Linked DNA regions of Homo sapiens: regions 2 and 3 are each linked to region 1. Evidence: fine-mapped expression QTL. A gene starts in region 1. Each other region holds a variant in brackets. All regions are shown on one strand. Distances are from middle to middle.

Evidence for each region. PIP is the estimated chance that this variant, and not a neighbour inherited with it, causes the effect.
Region 2: its variant is the best candidate, but not a certain one, in a credible set for the expression of PLAAT2 in whole blood (INTERVAL, PIP 0.66).
Region 3: its variant is the best candidate, but not a certain one, in a credible set for the expression of PLAAT2 in whole blood (INTERVAL, PIP 0.59).

Annotation. Positions count from the first base shown.
Region 1 is chr11:63,561,870-63,564,630 of GRCh38, reverse strand. PLAAT2 (phospholipase A and acyltransferase 2) reads left to right here and starts at 1,252. Exons shown (of 4, transcript NM_017878.2): 1 at 1,252-1,315. The coding sequence starts at 1,307. RefSeq lists a silencer at 216-295.
Region 2 is chr11:63,434,219-63,436,979 of GRCh38, reverse strand. No RefSeq gene overlaps it. Among named protein-coding and RNA genes, the nearest start is that of PLAAT5, 56 kb to the left of the region's middle. RefSeq lists enhancers at 859-1,410, 1,411-1,963. The variant G/A (reference allele first, on the strand shown) is at 1,127.
Region 3 is chr11:63,540,254-63,543,014 of GRCh38, reverse strand. All of the region lies in intron 2 of PLAAT4 (phospholipase A and acyltransferase 4), which reads right to left. Among named protein-coding and RNA genes, the nearest start is that of PLAAT4, 4.8 kb to the right of the region's middle. The variant G/A (reference allele first, on the strand shown) is at 1,534.

The DNA of each region.
Region 1 (2,761 bases):
ATGGAGTGGAGGTGCTGAGAGAGGCCGTCTCCATGGGAGCAAGACCACATGACCACGTGAGCTGAGGGAGTAGCTGGTCATGCAGAACTGCTGTGGCTCCCAAAGAGTTTTCCAGTTCTGGCTCCAGTCCATCTGCATCCCCACACTAAAGCTCTTTGTTTGTTTGTTTGTTTATAGCCTGAAGAGGGTAAGTTATTGGTCCTCGCCCCCATGCCCCACAGTGAGGATGCTCAGCTCCCCCCAGCCCCACCCACCCCTTCCTGTCCAGTTTGCTCAGGACCGGACAACTATATGTAGATGACAGAAGAGATACTTATTTGGAGCTTGGGTGAGATAAGCATGCAGGTGCCTCAAAGAAGCAACCTCTACACACCCAGTACTGGGTTTTGGTTTCCATTTGGTGTGGAATGAGTGTTTCTGAACTGTGGGTGAGAGGCAGAAAGGGGAGTGGTTTCTATACTGCTGTCCAAGCAGGCTCACTCTGTTTCCAGGGTAGAGGAATGTGCCTCCAATAATACGATTTTTCTAGGGCCATGGGGTTTGAGGTTGGTGGAAATGTTTGCCTGTCCCGGCAACCATCATTCCCAATTTGGAGGCATGAATCTCAGTCTCTCTGGGGCTCCTCTCTCCTTTTTGAAATTTTCCCCCATGGTCTCTGTCTCTATATCCTCCCTTGCCCCCACAACCACTGGATCTTGCTTGTTCCACCTGAAACTTGGTGATTGTCAGCTGTGCCCCTGACCACACTGCCACTAAGTCCTTCTCAATCTATATCCTGAGCTCTGATTCCTCTTCTGTCTGGCTGATTTTCATGCCGCCTTGCCTACTTGATATGTGCTCTGCCCCTGTTTGAAGACAGGGAAAATTTTACATGAACCTTGATCTATGTTCTGTTTTTTTTTTTTTTTTTTTTTTGACTGAGTCTCGCCCTGCCGCCCAGGCTAGAGTGCAGTGGCACGACCTCTGCTCGCTGCAAGGTCTGCCTACTGGGTTGACGCCATTTCCTGCCTCGGCCTCTGGAGTAGCTGGGACTACAGGTGCCCACCACCATGCCCAGCTAATTTTTTCTATTTTTTAGGAGAGACGGGGTTTCACCGTGTTAGTCAGGATGGTCTCGATCTCCTGACCTTGTGATCCTCCCGCCTCAGCCTCTCAAAGTGCTGGGATTACAGGTGTGAGCCACCGCACCCAGCCTATGTTCTGAAATAGTTGTATATGGGCTGGGTCACAGGGAAAGTGAAACTCAGAGCTAATTTAAGGCTGGACACAGAGTCAGCAACACACAAGACATCATCTTGAAGGAAGGATGGCTTTGGTAAGTCCCCAGAAACGGTTTTAAAGCTTTGATTTGAGGAACAACCACCCTATTAGTGATGATTATGTGTATTCTTGTTGGTCTACAGCTCTGGCATGGAGGGCACATGGGCACATGCTGAGTTCTGGGGGTCTGGCTCTCTCAGACACTGTGGGAAGGAACCACGGTGCTGGGTTATGACCCTGGAGGCTCCCCAGCCTCAGCTGCCGCATGGGGTCTGGTTCTACTGTGGCCAAAGTTTGCGTTTATGCTTTTCCAAGCCCTCCTCTGGCCAAACTACCAGTGGCTCTGCTAAGCCTCCTGAAGGCAGGAATGGTGGGCTCAGGGAGAGCAGCCCTTGGTTTACCCCACAGGCCGCCTCCTCTGTCACATCATCCTCAGTGGGAGGGATTAGCTGGGGAGGGAGGGTCCAGGGAAAGGGCTCCAGCTGTGTGGGTGGCAATGGGGGCTGTCAGAAAGGGCTCTGTCTCCCTCGCCTCCAGGCAGGGCCAGTCCCTCTACTTTCCCTCCTTCCCTCCAATTCCTTCTTAGTTTCCTTCTTCCTTTAGACCCAATAGCAGCCACATTTCCCAAGTGCTCAGGGGTCCAGACACCATGCTAAACACTTCTTTTATTTAATCCACACCAGGTAGTTAATAAGCAATCCTATGAAGTAGGCATAATTACTGCCAACTTCATGGATAGGAGGAATGATATACTGGTAAGTATAGAGAGGGGGCTGCCCAAAAGTCAGAGAGGGAATTCGAACTTAGGAGGCTCTGACTCTAAAGCTTCGACTTAAAAAAGAAAGAATGTATTTAATTCCAGGAGAAATACGTGAACACATTCACTTTGTCTGAAAAACCGAAACTCTAGCCTGGGCAACATAGTGAGATCCCATCCCTACAAAAAATATTAAAATTAGCCAAGGATAATGGTATGTGCTTATAGTCCTAGCTTCTTGGGAGGCTGAGGTGGGAGGATCACTTGAGCTGGGGAGGCTGAGGCTTCCTGCAGTGAGCTGTGATAGTGCCACTGCACTCCAGCCTGGGTGACAAAATGAGATCATGTCTCAAAAAAAGCCAAAAGCCAAAAACCAAAACTATTAGCATAAAAACTAATGTCCCCTTTGACCATCCTTCCCATCTGTACAGCCTTTCCCCTCTGTACAACCTGGTGCGTATTCTTCCAAATATTTTTCTGTTTTTGCATACATATATGGCTACCTTACAAGTATTGGTTTGTAGCTTTGGGGTTTGTTGTAGTTTTAAATTGCATTCCGTGAGGACAATTCAGTTAGGAAATGCTTGAATCTTTTCCTTTATTTACCAGCTTTTGGAATAATAGGGTGATTCTTTTCCATCCTCCAAAGATGCCTAGTGTTTTTAAAAAATATCCTTATGAACACGTGGGTTTTAACATATTTGATGTGTTTCAGTTTGTGTACAGTTATTTTTATTATTTTTT
Region 2 (2,761 bases), 130 kb after region 1:
CTTGTAGGGTTTCTGCCGAGAGATCCGCTGTTAGTCTGATGGGCTTCCCTTTGATGGTAACCCGACCTTTCTCTCTGGCTGCCCTTAACATTTTTTCCTTCATTTCAACTTTGGTGAATCTGACAATTATGTGTCTTGGAGTTGCTCTTCTCGAGGAGTATCTTTGTGGCGTTCTCTGTATTTCCTGAATCTGAACGTTGGCCTGCCTTGCTAGATTGGGGAAGTTCTCCTGGATAATATCCTGCAGAGTGTTTTCCAACTTGGTTCCATTCTCCCCATCACTTTCAGGTACACCAATCAGACGTAGATTTGGTCTTTTCACATAGTCCCATATTTCTTGGAGGTTTTGCTCATTTCTTTTTATTCTTTTTTCTCTAAACTTCCCTTCTCACTTCATTTCATTCATTTCATCTTCCATCACTGATACCCTTTCTTCCAGTTGATTGCATTGGCTCCTGAGGCTTCTGCGTTCTTCACGTAGTTCTCGAGCCTTGGCTTTCAGCTCCATCAGCTCCTTTAAGCACTTCTCTGTATTGGTTATTCTAGTTATACATTCTTCTAAATTTTTTTCAAAGTTTTCAACTTCTTTGCCTTTGGTTTGAATGTCCTCCCGTAGCTCAGAGTAATTTGATCGTCTGAAGCCTTCTTCTCTCAGCTCGTCAAAGTCATTCTCCATCCAGCTTTGTTCCGTTGCTGGTGAGGAACTGTGTTCCTTTGGAGGAGGAGAGGCACTCTGCTTTTTAGAGTTTCCAGTTTTTCTGTTCTGTTTTTTCCCCATCTTTGTGGTTTTATCTACTTTTGGTCTTTGATGATGGTGATGTACAGATGGGTTTTTGGTGTGGATGTCCTTTCTGTTTGTTAGTTTTCCTTCTAACAGACAGGACCCTCAGCTGCAGGTCTGTTGGAGTACATTGCCGTGTGAGGTGTCAGTCTGCCCCTGCTGGGGGGTGCCTCCCAGTTAGGCTGCTCGGGGTCAGGGAGCCACTTGAGGAGGCAGTCTGCCGGTTCTCAGATCTCCAGCTGCGTGCTGGGAGAACCACTGCTCTCTTCAAAGCTGTCAGACAGGGACATTTAAGTCTGCAGAGGTTACTGCTGTCTTTTTGTTTGTCTGTGCCCTGCCCCCAGA[G/A]GTGGAGCCTACAGAGGCAGGCAGGCCTCCTTGAGCTGTGGTGGGCTCCACCCAGTTGGAGATTCCCAGCTGCTTTGTTTACCTAAGCAAGCCTGGGCAATGGCGGGCGCCCCTCCCCCAGCCTTGCTGCCGCCTTGCAGTTTGATCTCAGACTGCTGTGCTAGCAATCAGCGAGACTCCGTGGGCATAGGACCCTCCGAGCCAGGTGCAGGATATAATCTCGTGGTGCGCCGTTTTTTAAGCCAGTCGGAAAAGCGCAGTATTTGGGTGGGAGTGACCGGATTTTCCAGGTGTGTCTGTCACCCCTTTCTTTGACTCGGAAAGTGAACTCCCTGACCCCTTGCGCTTCCCAAGTGAGGCAATGCCTCGCCCTGCTTTGGCTCGCGCACGGTGCACACACCCACTGACCTGCGCCCACTGTCTGGCACTCCCAAGTGAGATGAACCCGGTACCTCAGATGGAAATGCAGAAATCACCTGTCTTCTGCATCGCTCACGCTGGGAGCTGTAGACAGGAGCTGTTCCTATTCGGCCATCTTGGCTCCTCCCTCCTTTAATCCATCTTGAGCTCATTTTTGTATAAGGTGTAAATGGGTCCAGTTTCTGTTTTCTGCATATGGCTAGCCAGTTTTCCCAGCACCATTTATTGAATAGGGAATCCTTTCCCCATTGCTTGTTTCTGTCAGGTTTGTCAAAGATCAGATGGTTGTAGATGTGTGGTGGTATTTCTGAGGCCTCTGTTCTGTTCCATTGGTCTATATATCTGTTTCATTACCAGTACCATGTTGTTCTGGTGACTGTAGCCTTGTATTATAGTTTGAAGTCAGGTAGCGTGATGCCTTCAGCTTCGTTCTTTTTGTTTAGGATTGTCTTGGTTATATGGGCTCTTTTTTGGTACCACATGAACTTTAAAGTAGTTTTTTCTAATTCTGTGAAAAAAGTCAATGGTAGTTTGATGAGGATAGCACTGAATTTATAAATTATTTGGGCAGTATGACCATTTTCACAATATTGATTCTTTCCATCCATGAGCATGGAAAGTTTTTTCATTTGTTTGTGTCCTCTCTTATTTCCTTGAGCAGTGGTTTGTAGTTCTCCTTGAAGAGGTCCTTCATATCCCTTCTAAGTTGTATTCCTAGGTATTTTATTTTCTTTGTAGCAATTGTGAATGGGAGTTCACTCATGATTTGGCTCTCTGCTTGTCTATTATTTGTGTACAGGAATGCTTTTGAGTTTTGCACGTTGATTTTGTATCCTGAGACTTTGCTGAAGTTGTTTTTCAGCTTAAGGAGTTTTTCGGGCTGAGACAATGGGGTTTTCTAAATATACAATCATGTCATATGCAAACAGAGACAATCTGATTTCCTCTTTTCCTATTTGAATACCATTTATTTATTTCTCTTGCCTGATTGCCTTGGCCACAGCTTCCAATACTATTTTGAATAATAGGAGTGGTGACAGAGGGCATCCTTGTCTTGTGTCAGTTTTCAGAGGGAATGCTTCCAGGTTTTGCCCATTGAGTATGATATTGGCTGTGAGTTTATCATAAATAGCTCTTATTATTTTGAGATGTGTTTAATCAATACCAAGTTTATTGAGTGTTTTTAGCATGAAGGGGTGTTGAATTTTATTGAAG
Region 3 (2,761 bases), 22 kb after region 1:
ATTGAAGTTCAAATCCAGGTAGTATTACATTTGAAATTTTTATAAGGGTTATTAATTTAATAAAATTCATTATCAGGTTTCCCCTATAAGCTTTCTCCTAGGTTAGTTTTCCACAAGCATTGTTTTACATACACTGTAATCAGGATAACACAAGCTTAGTGTTAGATCTTGTAGGAAACCAAGATTAGAAGCATTAGAAATGTGCAGAATTTAAGAAATTATGTTTTGTGGTAATCTGTGGCCAACGATGATAGAACCTAGTGCAATTGTAAAGTGAAATTCAAGGAGAAGGAATGAGGAGTTAGGCAAGCAGCACACTTGAATATTAGTGAAGGAGAGGAGCTGTGAGTCAGGAATCAGAGAGACCTGCTAAAACCAGACAGATATAAACACCAAAGACGGAAGCCAAATAGGTAGCCAAAAATCCAGATATTTGAGAAGCAGGAAATTTACAGCAACCAAAGAAATAGGGCAAGATAGGCAGGTGAACACACATGATACCTCAATTGACAATCTTCCTCCTACCAAGCCAGACACGTTGTAAATGCTGCTTCCCATTGGAGCCCAGAAAAAAGGAAAGTTTAGGCTTTCTGTGTCCTATGTGTGGAAGCAGGGAATTGGATTGAAGACTTTCATAGTTGTAAAATAAAGGCAAATCCTGAGGAACTCACTGATAGAGATGTGAAATGACAGTACGGAAGAAAACAGAATAACTATATAAATATATTAGTCTAGGGCCACTTAATTTAGAGGAAGAAAAAAAATCACCCCATCCACAGAAATAGTTTGATAAACAGGTCACTAAATAATTAGCATTTATAAAGATTCTTAGTTATCAAGGGCTGCATTGTATTTTATATACTCAGTTTTATAAGGCGATACTTTTAAATAAGCATTTTAATGAAAATGGTTAAACTGAAAATAATTTTGGTCCTTAAAAGGAGTCAGGAGCTTTTATATATAAGGTACATATTTTAAAAGAATACCTCCTTTATAACAGGGTTTTACAGACACTACTGTAATTTATAATCATTGTTTTTTACTTTTGGGTTCACCTAGATCGTATGAGTTGGTATGATACTTCCAGAACAAAATTATTCATAATGTGTTTTTTGTAATTTATGATTTTTAAGTAAGCTTGACTTATAAATTGACATTGTAATTTTGTACATAATTGGATATATGTGCTAAAATTTAACATTTAGATTTATTTAATTGTAGAAAATACAAATGTAAAACTTATACATGGAAAGAACTGTATGCAGTTGACTTTACCATGGAAATTGGAGGGAAACAGTTTTAGATCAATTTTCTTTCAAAATTTTCTTTATTGTAAAGTATGCAAAATATATATTCATACCATTTATTAAATCAGAATGTTTATGCAAAAAAAAAAAAAAGACTGCAGTGAGCTGTAATCACATCACTGTACACCAGCCTGGATGGCAGAGTAAGACACTGTCTCAGAGGAAAAAAAAAAAAAAAAAGGAAAGAGAGAAAAATTGTCTTTAAAAAGCCTCTTTACGGCTGAGC[G/A]CGGTGGCTCATGCCTGTAATCCCAGCACTTTGGGAGGCCGAGGCTGGTGGATCACGAGGTCAGGAGATCGAGACTATCCTGGCCAACATGGTGAAACCCCATGTCTACTAAAATACAAAAAACTAGCTGGCTGTGGTGGCATGCGCCTGTAGCCTCAGCTATTCGGGAGGCTGATGCAGGGGAATCGCTTGAAACTGGGAGGCGGAGGTTGCAGTGAGCTGAGATTGCACCACTGTACTCCATCCCGGTGACAGAGCAAGACTCTGTCTTAAAAAAAAAAAAAAAGCCTCTTTACACACTGCAAGTTAGGCACAAAAAGGACCATGTGTCTTCATTGCCATGCTTTGTCTTACAAGGTCCCTGAGGATCATCTGGATTAAGTGGGCTTGATTTACTATTTTCCATCAATTCAGACATTTTTACAATCCTGCCTGGGAGATGATGGCTTGGAGAAAACTGATAAGATGCAAATGTCTTGCCCTGATAGTGATGGGAATGGTTTTTGTCCAGTGACAATGTAAATGCTTGGTGAAAAGAGAACATGAGAAGTTATGTAGTGGCACTGCCCTAGAGGATATGAACTTGCCTGCACCTACCTAATTTGGCAGTCTCATTGTCTCATTTCTGCATTTTTGTTGTTGTTTTTTGAGACAATGTCTTCCTCTGTCTCCTAGGCTGGAGTGCAGTGGCACTGTCTCAGGATCTCGGCTCACTGCAACCTCCGTCTCCCAGGTTCAAGCAATTCTCCTGCCTCAGCCTCCTGAGTAGCTGGGATTACAGATGCCTGCCACCACCCCCAGCTAATTTTTGTATTTTTAATAGAGACGGGGTTTCACCATGTTGGCCAGGCTCGTCTTGAACTCCTGACCTCAAGTGATCCGTCCGCCTTGGCCTCCCAAAGTGCTGGGATTATAGGAGTGAGCCACTGTGCCTGGCCTCTGTGTTCGTTTTTTCCCCTTTCATTGGCTATCCATACATACGTTTCCTTCATTCTGCTTTTAACTGGGTATGTCATATTTCTGCTTCTGTTATTAATGAGTTAAATAAAACATTGGTATTGCTTACTGTGTATTTGTATGAGAATTTTAAAAAAATGTATAAACCTGTGAGAATTGCTCCCAGTAAGGAATCTTAAGTATATAATATCAAGACACCTTGTTGTGTGAAAACATATGAGGCAAAGGATCTGGCACGGAGAAACATTGTTCCTTTTGAGAAACTTTCTTC